Regions from separate parts of the Homo sapiens genome. Here region 2 is linked to region 1. A link means that fine-mapping ties the variant in region 1 to the expression of a gene that starts in the linked region. Tissue or cell type: testis. Region 1 holds a variant in brackets; the other region holds the start of a gene. All regions are shown on one strand. Distances are from middle to middle.

Region 1 (8,191 bases):
GAGAAGGGGAGTATCAGGAGGCAAGATTACTTGTTATTTTTTAGCCATGTTTACATTTTTTTGAGATATCTTCTGAGTATCTGAGAAGAAATTTCAAGTGGGCAATTTGTTGGACAAGTTTTTGGTTCATGGGAGAAATTAGGACATGGATGCAATTTTGTGAGCCTGTAACACACAGCTAGTATTTAGAGCTAAGGGTCTATATGAAATCACCTAAATAGTACTTATAGATATGAAAGAGAAGGACAGAGCCCAGGGGTACTCTTACATTTACAGGTGAGCATAAAAAAGAAATCAAAAGAAACTCTAAAGGATCAAAAGCAAAGTAGAAGAAAACCAAACAGCCATGCGGGAGTGATTGTTGAGATGTTTTGAAAAAGAGAAGGTTGACAGTCATTTAGGAAGGTGAGGAATCAAACACAGTGCAGATGAGGGTGGTGTAGGGAGATCATTCTCTAGGTGCCCTTTGCATTTTTGCTCATCTTACGATCAGAGTCACTAACTCTCTTGGTTCAGGAGTTGGAAGATACAGTGGCCTGTTCCAGAGCAAAGGCAGGTTCAGTTGCTGTTCAGGATAATGAAGATAATGCCTCCCACTGAGGCAAAGATCAACAGAGCTTACTGCCCATTATAAAATATTCAGATTCCTTAAGCGCATGGTTCCTCTCCTATAATACAAACCTCTTGCAGGTACTGTTGTCACCTGGCCCTTTTCATATCACCCTGTGAGGAGTGGGGCCCAGAGAACCTACACAAATGCAAACACTTCAACCACTGCTATTGTCATAAAGTCCGTGGTCTCTGACCCAAAGTCTCATGTCCCCTGCTAGCATCCATGAAACAGTGGCAGGTGAACTTTGAAAACAGGATAGGCTAAAATCTCAGATCCTTCACTACTCTTCACAGATAGTAGGCCATTGTGATGGTCTACTTGAGCTCTGTTGTTGTGGTGGCATATCTTTCTGTACCGATATTCAGTTGGTTTGATGCAAGCATGGTACAGGTAGATGGGTTTATGCCTTAGATATTTAATAAGAATGCCTTAACACATGATCATATGTCTTCTTTCTTCACTGACAATGGCACCCCACTAATGGAGTGTGCAAATCCAGGAAGACCAGTGTTTGAACGTTGTGGGGTAAAGTGCCGATAGGTAAGCCCGCATATTTAGATATTTCTAAGAGGTTCTAAAATGATGAATACTTTCCTCAATCATTTGTCACAACCAAAGTCTATATTCTTATGCTTAGATGTCATAATTCATATTAAAGAATTGGGCCTTATATAACACCTTAATATTAATAGTACTTGGCTAAGCACAGACGATCAACAACACTTAATTAATGAAACTAGTTCTGAATACATTATATACTTTCAGGGTATATAAGGAGGTAATTACATTTTACAGAGGCATATACTCTATATCTGGTTTATTCGATTGTGAATCAATAAACATGGGGGTTTTTTTTAAAACATGATTTCTATGATGAATTTTTAATTTAATTGTAGGAAGCTCCTTTACCGCTGAGTCACCAGTGTCTTCTTGTATAATATAAAGACATTATGGCCTGGCATGGTGGCTCATGCCTGTAGTCCCAGCACTTTGGGAGGCCGAGGCGGGTGGATCATTTGAGGTCACGAGTTCAAGACCAGCCTGGCCAACATGGCGAAACCCTGTCTCTACTAAAAATACAAAAATTAGGCCTGGTGGTGCATGCCTGTAGTCCTAGCTACTTGGGAGGTTGAGGCAGGAGAATTGCTTGAACCCGAGAGGCCAAGGTTGCAATGAGCCGAGATTGCACCACTGTACTCTAGCCTGGGAGACAGAGTGAGACCCCATCTCAAAAGAAAAAAAATAAAATAAAAGACATTAGCCATCTGGAGCAGTTAAGTATATATTTTTCTATAAAGCAATTTAATGTAGATGATATTTTCTCTCTGTGTGTGCACAATTGCATGCATATGTCAAGTGTCGTGAGATTCCAAGTATTTGACGATCTGCTTCTTCTATAGACAGTTGGGTACATAAAAGGAGAGCCATGTGCAAATCCAGTCTCTGGTTCTAGGTTTATACCTCCTCTTCTCCACCTCCGCTTTCCTTGATAACCCCTGATGCACACAGCCAGCCATCCTCATCCCTCGAGATGTGGTTGATTTCTCTCTATTTGGGTTTCAGGAAATTGTTTTTCCTCCCTTCTGAGAGTCTATGCGCTGCTGCAGGCCAGTCAGTATTGATTCAATTCTGGGTGAATCCTCTCTCACTCTTTCCTAAGTGTATATTGTATATGTAGTTCTTCTGCCAAAAGCAGCTTTGTATTAAGATTGTATTAAGATTTAAGTTTTCTTAAATTTGCAAGTCACCTAAAATATATCCTGTGTCTGCTGGGATCCTTTTGATGTTGAAGCGTCTTGGAGTAGACAATAGAGGATTTTCATATGGTGGAAGAATGTTAGGTGTCCTTGTTGGAGAAGAGAGGAAGAGTAGAGAACCCCTTTAAAGCCCTCTTACTGCCTGTTCCTTGCATCTCATCTCTACATATTTAGCAATCACATCTGCTGATTTGGCAAACACTAACAGCAGCTACACAGCGTCAGTGAGGACAATAGTGAGTGGATTTAAACATCAGGGGCGATGTACCAGTGCAATAAATAGAATATATCATTGTTTCACTGCGGACAGAATGTCTGTGCTCTCTATGAGGATCTGCATTTAAGCCCAACACCCAAGGAAGGCAAACATCTAAAGCTCAGCATGGGGTCCTTCAAGCAGGGGAATACAAACAAAGCATTTTTCTCCCAAAACACAAGTTTTAGGATTTCATGTCAAAGACATGCTGCCAATCAGAAGACAGCATTCCCCCTTCTTAGAGCTGGAAATGGTAACCAGGACACATTGGTATGCACAATTCTGCTGGCTCAGAGCACACGCAAGCTCCTAGGCTGTGACTGGCAGGAGGCTCACAGCGATTTCTTTTTTTTTGAGACAGGGTCTCACTCTGTCGCCCAGACTGGAGTGCGCAGTGGTGCAGTCTTGGCTCACTGCAACCTCAGCTTCCCAGGTTCAAGCAATTATTCTGCCTCAGCCTCCCAAGTAGCTGAGTTTATAGGCGCCCACCACCAAGCGCAGCTAACTTTCTTGTATTTTTTTTAGTAGAAACAGGGTTTCACCATATTGGCCAGGCTGTTTTCAATGTTTTTGAACTCCTGACCTCAAGTGATCCACCCACCTCGGCCTCCCTAGGATTATAGGCATGAGCCACCATGCCCAGCAAGCTCACAGCAATTTTTAATGCAATATGATCAGACCTAATTTTGGCTTTTTGATTTCCTCCCTTAAACCTCAGGCAGGCACTTTTTCAAAAGAGAAATCAATCAGTCAATCAATCAGTCAATCAACAGTGAGTGAATGAATGACTAAATTGTTTGTTTTTAGCATGGCATAAAATAATCCTTAATATTTTGACCTCAAGCAACCATTCTGACCATATCTTCTTCCATGCGCCTTTGACTGAGTACCCAGATACATGCAGAGTCAAGTTTTCTAGATCACAGCCTTGTCCTCTAATTCAGTGCCTTGGTATGAAATCTTTCTTCTTCTATGTCCTTTTTTTGCCAGATGAAATTTCAGTCTTTATTCAAG[A/G]TCAAGTGCAACTGTCTCTTTGAGGAAAGTCCTTTGACCGCCATTTCTCCCCTTCAGAAGGCAAACACCTGGGGGAGAAGATCTGCTTAAGGACCTGGTAACTGACAAAGAATGGAATGGGAGCGAGAACCGCCTAGCCATCCCTTCTCCTTGCACAGTCATGAAACAAAAGTTGAAAAGGAGCCTGGTTTTACTTGACCAGTCATAAATTACCATAAAATAAAATGAGATATTAGGAACCTTTGATCTCTGAAAAAGTAATATGTGTTGAAAAGAAATATCACTGTTACATATAGACAAATAATAGAAATATTTGAGGCATGCATTTAAAATGTAGAGGCCACTTATAGCAGGCATATTAACATGTGCATTTGCTTTTTAAGAAGTATACACACGTGTACCTTTAGCTTTGAAAGGGTAAGATTCAATGCTTGGGTGATGGATGCACTAAAGTCTCAGAAGCCACCACTAAAGGACTTACCCACGTAACCGAAAACAACCTGTACTCCAAAATCAATGAAATAAAATAAAAAGGTAAGATTCATAAATAGCAAGTTGAGAATGCATGTTTATACCATGTAGACAATGCATGATAAATTGTTGGCAATAAGACCCATGTAGCTGACTTTGGGGATACAAAGTAGCTTCTGAAAGAGGTTCCTAATTAGCCCTGCCTGAGGTGACTGCTTAAGGTATTTATCTGTAGCTGGAATGCATTGCCTCAGAGACTTGAGGATTCAGGAGCTATGAGTTTCAAGGCCACAGATGCAGTGGAATAGTAAGGCTTCTTCCCCTGCCTGGCACATTGACCTAACTGATGAGAGGTGCCTTAGGGACCCAGCAGCTATGGCCATTTATGTCTAGTCCCTCACTCTAGAAAGGAATTGCTTGAATACCACGGTGCTGGAGTTTGTAGCCACAATGCTGAAGGTCAGGGCAGTCCTTCATGATGATGCATTTCTGTCAGCCATACTTGCACATCTCTTTAATGTCTGCAATGTCATTAAGCAGTGGTGTATCATTTTTTTTTAATGCAGAAACTAAACTGATACTCAAAACCTATGACAATTTGAATCCTTCCTGCCTATCCAACCTTAGTTTTTCTGCTCGATAATATAAATTCTCCCTTTCAGTCAGGTAGATAGTCTTCCTGTCTTCCTGTCATTCTTGGTTTCTCTTTGTTGCTCTTGTCTTCCCCACCTGCTGAAATGCTTTTCTTCTTTCTTTCTTTTTTTTTTTTCTGAGAAAAGACCTCACTCTGTTGCCCATCCTGGAGTGCAGTGGCATAATGACAACTCAATGCAGTCTCAAGCTCCTGGGTCAAGTGATCATCCTTCCTCAGCCTACTGAGTAGCTGGGACTACAGGCATGTGCCACCACATCTGGCTAATTTCTTCATTTTTTTGTAGAGACTGGGTCTTGCTATGCTGCCCAAGCTGGTCTTGAACTCCTGGGCTCAAGTGATCTTCCCACTTCAGCCTCCAAAAGTGCAGGGATTACAGACATGAGCCACCCATGTACCTGGTTTCTCTCTTCTTTTCTAACTAATCAAGTACTTTAAGTCACAACTCAGGGTGACAACCTCCACCTCCATTGACTTCTCCAGAGCATTTCATTTCCTCTTATCCTTTCTCTGCACTTTGTTAGAACTTACATTCTGATTTGTACTGTTGACCTTTGAGCCCTTAAGTTTATGCACCTTCTCTCTCTCTCTCTCTCGCTCACTCTCTCTCTCTCTGTCTCTGTGTCTCTCTCTGTTTCTGTCTCTCTCTTTTTCTCTGTCAATTATTTTATTCTGGTATTTGGTACTTATGAGAAATCTTATTAGTATCCTAAACTCTCTCAAAACAGGAAATGTGTATTTTCCTTCTCATCTAATTCTTAGGAAACTTCATATAGGAATAAAAAATATGTAGTAGTGGATTGTCTGGTAAATGAATAAAAGAGGGATTTGAGGTCAGTGGGCTGTTTCAGGACATGACCAAGGAATGTGGTACCAGGGCAGCAACAAGCTTGCTAAGGGGCGATAAAGTAGTCATTGTATATAACAGAGGAATTTGGGCTCAATGCAGATTTGCCACTAACTCTTTGGCAGTATAGAATTCACTAGAGAAATATTAGTAGGTTAGTTAGTATTCCTAATAAAGAACTGCTAATACCTTATAGAGACATAAGCCATGTTTCTCGTCTTTCGTTTCTGAAATGAAATTTTGGCCAGGGAAACATTTTGCATCCCTTTTTGATGTCTACAAATGTGGCATTTGTCAGATGTGAGATAGTTAAGTGTGTGTGTGTGTGTGTGTGTGTATATATATACTTTATATATGTATATATACATATCCTATGTGTGTGGGTATATATATATATATATATATATATATATATATATATGAATGATGCATGGAGAGATATCTCTCCATGCATCCAAAATATTCACAACTTTTCACTAATATCTGAATAACATTTGAAAAATTGACAACTCTTCTGGCTAAAGATCAGCATACACATTCGTTCCACAGAGACTTGTGCCAAAATCTTGCTCAGCTCAAGGGGTACTGCACAATAAACAATAAGAAACTTTTATAACTCCGACTAATAGAACTCATTGCTTTTCCAGTTTGAAGATAAAGGATGTCTGCTTGCTTTCCATGCCTAATTTTCCTGATGCTGTAAAGCTGTTCAGGAAAGTTCCCACTGCAGGAGTTTTGCTAGTAATCTTCAGCTCCGTGGGAAGCCTTTGGACTCTGTTGCTATCCCTGAAAGTGGCTGTTCTTCTCCATCAGTTTCCTGGGCAAGGGCTCGAACCAGCTATTAGTGTCTATTTGCACTGCATGAAAACAAAATTTAATGTAAAGACGCTTATAGCTTGCCTACCCTAAAACCCCAGGAGTCTCATTCTGCCTGACCCTGGACATTTTTTGAACTGATAGAGGGATGGGTATCTGGTGGGTCTCTTCAGTCAGCTCATCTCAGCATGTTGAAAGTCCAAATGACCCTTGCCTGAGGATGGTGAAAGTAATTTGTATGTGTGTATACATAATCCTGCTTTTTCACTATTTCCAGTCACAGATTGCAGAGATAGTTGACTGTGCTTGTTAGTGTGAGTGTTAATAACTTTGCTATGCTGATTTTTAGACTTCCTATGCTATATGATCTCCCTGAAGAGCATGACAGAGCATTGCTTTGGAAAATCAATATTCGGCGTGATTATTCCTTCTTTCATGTGTAATCAAACTTTGAAGACCACCAATAGGCCAAATCTACAAGCATTAGGTTTCTAAACATATTGTTTAGTCAGGAGAAATTGTGTTTTCTAGCTGAGGTATGCCAGCTACTGGTATGGAGAAAATCTGCCTAGCAAATTGGAAGGGGCCAGAAGCTCAAATGCTATTGAGAACCACTCAACAATTCTTTTTTCTTATACACAGGATTGAAGCACAGAGCAAAAGGAAAATCCAGCTTTGGGATTTGTTCCCTTGAACTTACAAATGATTCATTAGACCAATGACATTGTGAGAATTTGGTCTCTGACAAAGAAATAAATGTTTTAAAAATAGTGCTAATACATAGGTACAAATACAGAATTATGTCAGGCATGTATTTTTTTAAAGATAGAGTCCAGTGAAAAGAATACGTGTTAGAATATGGATTAGGTTTCTAAAGGTATACTTATGTCTGCCTTCGTCTTCAGAAAACAAAGTTGTATGTACACTTTAAGAAAGGTCTTAGTGTGGTAAACGTGAGGCAAACCAAAGTCCTGTTACTTCTTTTGTCATATCATTAAAGCCTCCAGACGGAGGTTTCTTCCCATTATGTGATGTGCAGAATTTCAGATGTCAGTCAGCAGCTGAAGTCAACTGTTGGTCCACCAGGCCTCTAAGCTGCAGCCTCTGTCAGCTTGGGGACAGTGGGATCCATGTGACTTGCCTGCTACTGCCCTTGATTGGGCAGATCACAGAGCAGATGGCCTGTGTCTAGAGTACAAGGTGTTAAGGCTTTTTTTTTGGGGGGGGAAGAAATAATTCACATGTGCTAATATTCCTGGATGTTTCACTGATAATATAATATAGAATGTATGAAAAAATCAAAGTCAATTAGAACCAGAAATCTCCTGATACTGGATGATTCTATACATAAATATCTTGCACTAACAGCAAGAATAATAAAAGTTGTACAAAAAATGTCTGTTCTTCCCCAGACCATGAGCTCCATGGAGGCAGAGACCTTATTTGGTTGGTTTACTGCCCTTCCCCAATGTTTCTACCAAGCTGAACATGTATCCAGCTCTCAGTGCCCCATTGAGTTGAAATAAATTACAGTGACATAAACTATGTTCTTCATCAAATGCTGGACAAGCACGTTTCTCAGGCAACTTCTCTGGGATCAACATAAGAACAGGGTGATGAAATGTGAGAAGCAGTGAGGGCAAGGACTTGAGCCTGGTGCCTACCTAAAGTTTACACTCCACAAGTATTCCACCCAACACTTCAGATACCTTCTCTTCTTTCAAAGTCAACAGTTTATGCCCATTGAAAATAAATACACACACCC
Region 2 (8,191 bases), 110 kb before region 1:
ATCAATGGCAATTTGGAGGCTCTCAGAGGCAGAAGTGGTTGGTGTTTTTCTATTTATTGTTCTAGATTTGGGTCTGAGCACTTTTATAAGTGAAACTTTCCAGGTATTTTGTTGTTGTTGTTGTTGTTATATCAGGTCTTAAACTATACCTTTATAAATTCTTAGTCATATATACTAAAGGGCATTTAATCTCACGACTGTTATTTATGGGCTTTAAGTCCTCTATGCAAAGGGTAAAATTGTCCCTGTGAATTTCAGAGGTAGACATTAGGTAAAGAGAGAGTTTTTTGCTTGACTTATTGCTTAAGTCAGAGCGTTCTCTGAATCTTCTAACTCTTCATTTAATTCACTTGAAAGTATTTATTAATCAATGTGCCTAATACATAGATGGGACTGCTTCCAGTGAGTCTGTCAGTCATGTTACCAGAGCCTTTATTTCTTCCTCTATGCCAAGCTTAAAAAATCAGATGATTTATTTTACATGAGCCACACATGCAAATAGACCTGTAATGCTGAAATTTTGATACTTAAAGGTAAATCTAGTATCAGAGAGCTCTATTAAGTGGTCTAGAGTATATTCAAATTACAAGACATGCAACTTATTCTAAAATCTAATGCAATCTACTAACAGCAAGGGAGAGGGAACTATTCAGAGTAAATAGGACATTGTTTATCTGAAATTTTATTGACACATTAATTGACAACTCCATTTTATATGACGTATACAATCAACTGGACCTGTTTAATGTTAGTCCTTAGATAAAAAATAATTGTAGCTCAAGACCTCATAATTGTATATATTTTTTTCACTGTACCTGGTACAATCATTTCATGTATGAAATGAATGAGTCCACAATACCTCAATATTTGAACATTTTGTTTTAATTCACTTAATCATTGAACCACAGAGTCTGTGCTAAATGCTATTATCTCTATAACTCAACAATAAGGAGATTTAACAGACTCACCATTTAATGTGCACGGGAGCACAGATTTCAAAATTTGTTTCAGCACAACCTTTTGGATTATCATATATTTGTACCATAAAATAAATCATCTGATTTTTTACTCTACTGAGACGGATGCATATGCAACATATTTATGTGCATATATTCAGTGTTGGAAATTAATTCATAATCATGTATATCAAGTGATTTGGATATTTACCTGCACCCCATCTCAGGGAATCATTAGAGCTTGCATTTGGAACATTTAACTGATTTTAGTTATGTAATGTAATTTTACACACATTACCTTACATTTCCCTTCAAATTCCTTCTGAATCACACTGTTCTGATTTCCTGGAAACGCAGTTCAAGAAATGGCCAAGAGTAGAAGGATGTTATAAGACATTGAGTTTCGAAGTTTTCCTTTAAAATACAAAAAGTGAAAATTCCACAAAAGTGGAATGAAACTTGATTTATAGTGCCGCAAAGAAAAATCCTGGAATGTGCAGGAAAGGAAGTGAATGAACTTGGGAACAGCTGCAAGTAAGTATGATGAACGACTCTGCATTGGGCTAGCAGTTCATCTGTTCCACTTGCAGCTGCAGGCCAAAGCGTCACCAGGTTTTCTGCAGAAACTCAACTTGGCATTTTAATGGCTGAGGTGAACCCACTGGTGGCCAGCTGCTGGGACTGAAAATCAGAAGCAGCTCCAGTCCTTCCAGATTGTGAGGGGAAAGGTTAAGGAGAGGGAAGTGGTGCCTTGTCCCAGACAGACGCCCATTGGTCCTGAGATTTCAAAAACACCAGGAGAGAGAATGCCTGGCAGTGGAGAAACCAACACTCAGCCTTCTCTGGAAGAAAGAAAAGGCTTGAGGCAGGATTCTCAAGCTTCATTTAATTACGATCAAATAGGGACTGGCAGAAGAGCGTAGCTGCAGATTTGCAGTAACTCTCCCTAAAAGAACATGAGCTGTGAGAGAGTGACCTTGCAGCCAGCACTGATTTGACATTCACCTGTTTCCCTGCTTGCATTGGAATACCGCTGGGTTAGTTTGGATCCCAAACATAGAAAAGTAACTCCTAGCAGGAGGCAGAAGAGAGCACTTAACATTATGCGGCCAAGAGGTTACACTGGCTGCTGCCTCTTATCAATGGGTCTTTCAGGTCCTTTTTGGGAGCAATCCTGGGCTTCATTGCCCTGCCTAAACTGTAGTTTCCAAGCAGTTTCTCAGGCAGTTCCTGTTACATTCTGTGATCCTGCCTAATACAGTAATTTGATTCCAGTTGAAAACTTCCATTACATACATGTCTTGAATCGGGAGAGTTAGAGCCTTATACTTTGTTCCTCTGCAAAACTGTAAGAGCATCACTGCTGTATTAAAGGGAAGTGAGTGGAAAGTTGCAAAGTGAGCCTTTGAGTTCAAGAAAACAGATGAAAATGAGCCCAAGCCTTGGAACTACAGTTCTAAGTTTTGAGTGGTGGACAGAGTGGGAAACCACGTAGCATGCAAAGGGGAGCGGAAGGGCAGAGGAAGGAAGCAAGGCTACAGTGTTTGGCTGTGTTCTAATGTGCTCTGGCATGGAGTTATCGTGAGTGGAACTAATATTACATAACACTATGTATATTTTGGAAGATGGCTGGGAAATAGCCTTTGGAGCCAATGGAGATTTATTAAATAAAAATTACCTCAAGCTTGATTTTTCATCTTTACCAAGCACCATAGTAAATTGGCATCTCTGAGACTCCTGCGGGAGCCAGAAAGCTGGAATCAAAAATTCAGAAACATGAAATCAAGAAAGAACTGAAAATCTGAATGGAAAGCCAGTCACAAAAGAATAAGAAGTAAAATATTCTTTAATTATGTATTATCTCCTACAGATCAAAAGGAACTTTCCACCATTTCATTGAACCTGTGAGTGAAAATGATCCCAAAAGTATAGAGAAAATAAAGAACAGTAAGCAAATTAATTCAGTTTATATACTGTCTTTTAACCTGTTTAGAAAGAATTTGAGAATTGTTTGATCCTGATTATATAAAAAAGATATATCTGTATCTATGTCTACGTATATATTAATACATACAAATAAAATTTCTAGAAGGAAGAGTACACAATTAACAGTGGTTACTTCTGAAGAATGGGAATGGGATGTTGGAGGAGACAGATCTGTCACTTTTCATTTTATATTTCTCTGGTGAGATCAAGGGAGCATCTTACTTTGTAAATATTAAAAATGCTGAAATATGTAGGTTAAAATGTAATTAATCTACATTCCTATTTTTCAGAATTAATCTGACTTACCATCTGGTCATTTTTGCTTGCTTACATTTTTTCTTTTGCAAAACTCATTATGTTGTTTTGCTAAAAACAATTAAAACAATGCATCAAACTAGTAAGAAAAAAAAAGTCTCAAACCACAGAGAAAGACTCACAATTACCATTAGATACATAAAATTCTATGATATATTTCTTTGTACATTTCTGGATCAAATAATGGCAAGATGGATGAACTGATGGATAGATGGATATATAGACATGCATCGATGTAGGCAGACAGTAAGATCATAGTATAATTGATATTTTAATTTAACAGAAGGTTAAAACTGAAATTTTGCTTTTAGAGGAACTATTGACCTCAAATAAATGTTTTATTTTCACCTTAAGACGTATCTTTTTCTAAAAGATCCAAAGTTAACTTGAAAAACATGGAAGTCGATTTTTTTTTTTTTTTTTATTTTAACCTATCAAGCTCAATTGACTCCCTCTCATAAAAGTGGAGGCACAGTGGCTCACGCCTGTAATCCCCGCACTCTGGGAGGCCGAGGCGGGCGGATCACGAGGTCAGGAGATCGAGACCATCCTGGCTAACAAGGTGAAATCCCGTCTCTAGTAAAAAATACAAAAAATTAGCCGGGCCTGGTGGCGGGCGCCTGTAGTCCCAGCTACTCGGGGCTGAGGCAGGAGAATGGCGTGAACCCGGGAGGCGGAGCTTGCAGTGAGCCGAGATCCCGCCGCTGCATTACGGCCTGGCCGAGAGAGCGAGACTCCGTCTAAAAAAAAAAAAAAAAAAAGTGAAGATATTGCCACAGGTCTCAGGTCCTCTTTCCCTGCTTCACTTTCTATTAGTTTTATCAGTTAGGTTTACATTTACTAAGTTTAGAGCATATACAATCTTTTTTTCTTTTTTTTTTTTTGAGACGGAGTCTCGCTCTGTCGCCCAGGCTGGAGTGCAGCGGCAGGATCTCGACTCACTGCAAGCTCCGCCTACCAGATTCACGCCATTCTCCTGCCTCAGACCCCGGAGTAGCCGGGACTACAGGCGCCTGTGCAATCTCTATGGTAACCACATTTCCCAGTTGACTACTACCGGTAATAAAATCAAATGGATTCAGTGCTCACAACTCTTCAGTCTTTGGGCTACTTTCCATTCTTGAATTTTTAGCTGAATTCATCTCTTTGGCTGGATTTTGTGGTAAAGTAGTTTTTTGCTTATTTTTTCCCCCAAGAAGGGCTTACATGGGTCTTTTTCTATGAATTATTTTCCTACTTGACAATATTTACTTGTTACTTTTTTACTTTCATCATGCCTTGGGCGCATATAATACTCTCCCTTCACATTTTCTTTCCTTGAATTTGTGGAGAATTTTCCATTTTATTCTTGCAGTCAACTTTACTGAAAACAAATCTGAAATAAAATTAATGTTATTCTACCGTATAGGCGATTGGCTTTTTAGTCCCAAGATGCCTAAAAATAAGTTACCCTTAACACATAATAGCTTAACTTAGTTAGGTCTAGAAATTGAGGGTTTGTTTTGTACCACATTTTCTAGAAAGAGTGCTCCTTCAACCTAAAGATTTACTTAGCTTTTTTTCAGGAAATTTCTTGGATTAGATCTTAGAATAAATATTTATTTTCATTTGTTAAATTCTCTACTTCAGGAATATCTGTTAACATTGTGTTGGATTTTTTTGTTTAAAGTATTCACTTTTCTCTAATTGCTTTTATCTCCTTATCTGTTCATCTTCCTTCACTATAATTATCTTAATCCCCATTTCTCTGTATCAGTAACTTAATTTTCAATTGCATCCATTGTTTTTCTAATTTATGTATTAGTTTCATAAGGCTATTGTTTTGAGTTCTTTCCCCCTTATATCGGTACTCTCCTTTATCATCTAATTCTGTTATTCTATTATTTTGTCTTTGAATTTTGTTTTAGTGAACTTACATTCCTCTATTATATTACATTATATTAGAATTAGTAGTTTTGAGTAGGTTGGTTCATGAGTTTGTGAGTAGGGTAGTTTCAAGTAGGGTTGAGTAGTATTTTTATGTTTCTTGTGATAATTTTGCCAAACAATGAATATTTCTTTTTAGTATAAAGATGTCTCATGGAATATTTAGGACATGTATATGCTAAAATTTATTTGTTGCTTATATGAATTTCAAATTGAGCTGGGTGTCTCTATTTTTATATTTTAATTTGCTAAATCTGTATGTTTTTTATAAATTTCCTTCCTTCCCTCCTTCCTTCCTTCCTTCCTTCCTTCCTTCCTTCCTTCCTTCCTTCCTTCCTTCCCTCCCTCCCTCCCTCCCTAATCTAGGAGGATTTTATAGTTGCCATAGCGTTTTCTTTTCTTTTTGCTCATGCTTGTGTGTCCCTAAGATGCCAAGTTAGGTGGGATATATTGTAGGTGGCCTCTTGACTCTCTTCTCACCATACTGTTTGTTTTCTTTACTTAATATACAGTCTGAGAACTGAATTTACTTTCATGGATTATCTGTTTGTCTGTAATCTATGGGAATACTGGGTGATGAAGGCAGGGATCTAGTCTTAGATACTCTGCAGCCTTTTCTCTGTCTCCTAAGATATTTTTTCTGTGCAATGGGAGAGGGGTTTTTGTCCAATCCCCTGGGAAATACTATAAATGAATAATTTCTCAAATTTGCTGTGTATTCTTGAATCTTCACTCTCTTCAAAGAGACTTAAGCCACTATTTCATTCCGGGTAGGAGCAGCTAAACTAAACTAACAGAAAAGCTACAAATTACAGTGGCTTAAAAAACAAAGGACATTTTTCTTGCTTGGGTAAAGTTTCATTTATTTTTCCCTCTATTTCATTGCCATGACTTTTAGGGAGCAGTGACTTCTAAATTGTGGTTCTTAATCAACTAGAGTTTATAGTTTGTCTAACATTTTAAAAATATAATCAGTTTCTTTACTACTATTTTTATATTACTAATTCATTAATTTTCACCCAAATCTTTAAGAACATGGCTCTCATGGTTAGGGAAAGAAAATTGCGCAAAGGACTTGTGTCCATACCGTTTTTTTGGCCTCACTATTCCTGAATGTGGTTTCTTTCTTCTAATGACCAAACTTTAGGGGACTAGGACTGTGCATCTCAGAATTAAACTGGTATTTCTGATATGTATGGTTTATGGTTCAATGGAAAAATATAAGAATTTTTCAAATAATTTTCTGATTGTAAGGATGAATGTGACCTAATGTTAAAATGGCAGGACAGAAATATTAAAGAACTGAATGATGGCATCAGCTCAGCCATTTAGTATTTGATTTTGGACTTAGTTTCCTCATCTGTATAATAAGAGCTTTGCCTATGTATTTTTCCAAGACCATTTCAGGGTTTTGCATTATTTTATTTCATTTGGAATTAACATTCAGGTCATCTTATAGTAGTGTACTGAATAACTGAATGTTAAATGTCTTGCTAAAATAAATATTGGGTTGGTGAAGTTGAAGTTTTGGAATAATAGCTAAAATTAATAACTATAGATTTTAATTAATGATTTCATTCACTAACTTTCAAAAGTTAGACATTCAAAAACTGCAAGAAGAATATTTTTTCAAGATTATAAATTGCTAGATTCTTCCTGCAGTGGAAAGGGGAACATGAGATATTTGCAGTATTAAATAGATACTCACTTTCAATTGATACATTTAATAACATCACTAACCTTCCTATTCATAGTGAAATGAGTGATGAAAAAGTTTTTTAGTAAATATTTTTTACTGGAACAGAAATAATTTTGTAGCAGGATTCATAATTTGTGTATACTGATTTAAGAATATCATTACTTCCTGAAAGTGGCATTCATCTCTATGGGTAGTCATTTTAACAAGGTTTTTGTTAAAACCTTCCCCTTCATTAACACACTTTAGGAAAGTGTCTTCTAAGTCATTCTATCAAAGTCTGTTGCTTTCAAATTTGATTAAAGAAAACAAAGTATTATTTGCGTACCTCATTTTTCTCTAACACATTTTTCTTTGCATTTCTCATATTCTGGATTATGTGGGGATCAAATATGATTTAAATGTTATGCACAATTTTGTGGTTTTTCCTACTAATGAAATTTTGAGTTGCAAAGTTAACATTCTGCCATTGTTAATATATTCTTATTATAAAAAGACAAAATTTCAACACATTTCATTTAAAGATCTCAATTGGCTTTTACTTGCAATTCCAGAATCGGGCAGCCATTAGAACCAAAACAGTTCTGAGGAGCTCCCAGGCTGCAATGTGGTGCGAAATGTTTTATGGACAGAAAATGGAAATGAGGTGCAGAAATTGGAGGTGAGATTCAGAGATAGCTGATTGGTTACAGCTCAGCCTTTGCCTTGTTTGAACATGGTTTGAACAGTTGATTGACTGAAGCTAGGCTGCTGTGATTGGCTGATACTTTACTATTTGTTACAAAGGCAAATTCCTAATTTAAGCTTTCAAATTGTTTAAGTACTAAGTTAGGTTTTACTTTGTTACTTAGGACTCATATCGAGGTTTCTAAAGCCCACATCTGATACGATTTAACATTACCTATGTGAAGAATTACTAAGCAGAAACATTTTGAAAGCCTCATGACCTGAATCGTATTAAATACTTAACAATTGAATTTGTCTCAATAATAATTATGTTTAAAATTATGAATGCTGGTTTGTAAAAAAAAAAGCCACAAATTTTAAAATTCTGATATAATCTAATATCTGGTATTCAGCTTTGTATTATCATTTTAAAATTTAATGAACATCTCTGGACTCTAAATATTTTTCTTTTTAAAGTTATATAAAACATTCTCTTTATATTCATTATAACTATTAAACTATTTGCCTACTTATTTATATTGAAAGTCCTTAATATTTTTACAATAATTTAATAGGTTTCACAATCATCATTACTTATTATAGTTTATACTGTTTGAATAATAAATATATGTCTATACTATGACTC

Which allele goes with the higher level. Alleles are on the strand shown, and positions count from the first base shown. SD is a standard deviation of normalised expression in the study named.
As copies of A replace G in region 1, the expression in testis of the gene that starts at base 3,791 in region 2 goes up (large effect, 1.1 SD a copy in GTEx).

Evidence for each region. PIP is the estimated chance that this variant, and not a neighbour inherited with it, causes the effect.
Region 2: it holds the start of NRG1-IT1, and the variant in region 1 is fine-mapped to the expression of NRG1-IT1 in testis (GTEx, PIP above 0.99).

What each region holds. Positions count from the first base shown.
Region 1 is chr8:32,135,599-32,143,789 of GRCh38, forward strand. NRG1-IT1 (NRG1 intronic transcript 1) reads left to right here. Exons shown (of 3, transcript NR_104158.1): 3 at 3,617-3,879. It also overlaps a transcript of NRG1 not described here. Among named protein-coding and RNA genes, the nearest start is that of NRG1-IT1, 110 kb to the left of the region's middle. The variant A/G (reference allele first, on the strand shown) is at 3,641.
Region 2 is chr8:32,021,946-32,030,136 of GRCh38, forward strand. NRG1-IT1 (NRG1 intronic transcript 1) reads left to right here and starts at 3,791. Exons shown (of 3, transcript NR_104158.1): 1 at 3,791-3,819; 2 at 7,434-7,540. It also overlaps a transcript of NRG1 not described here.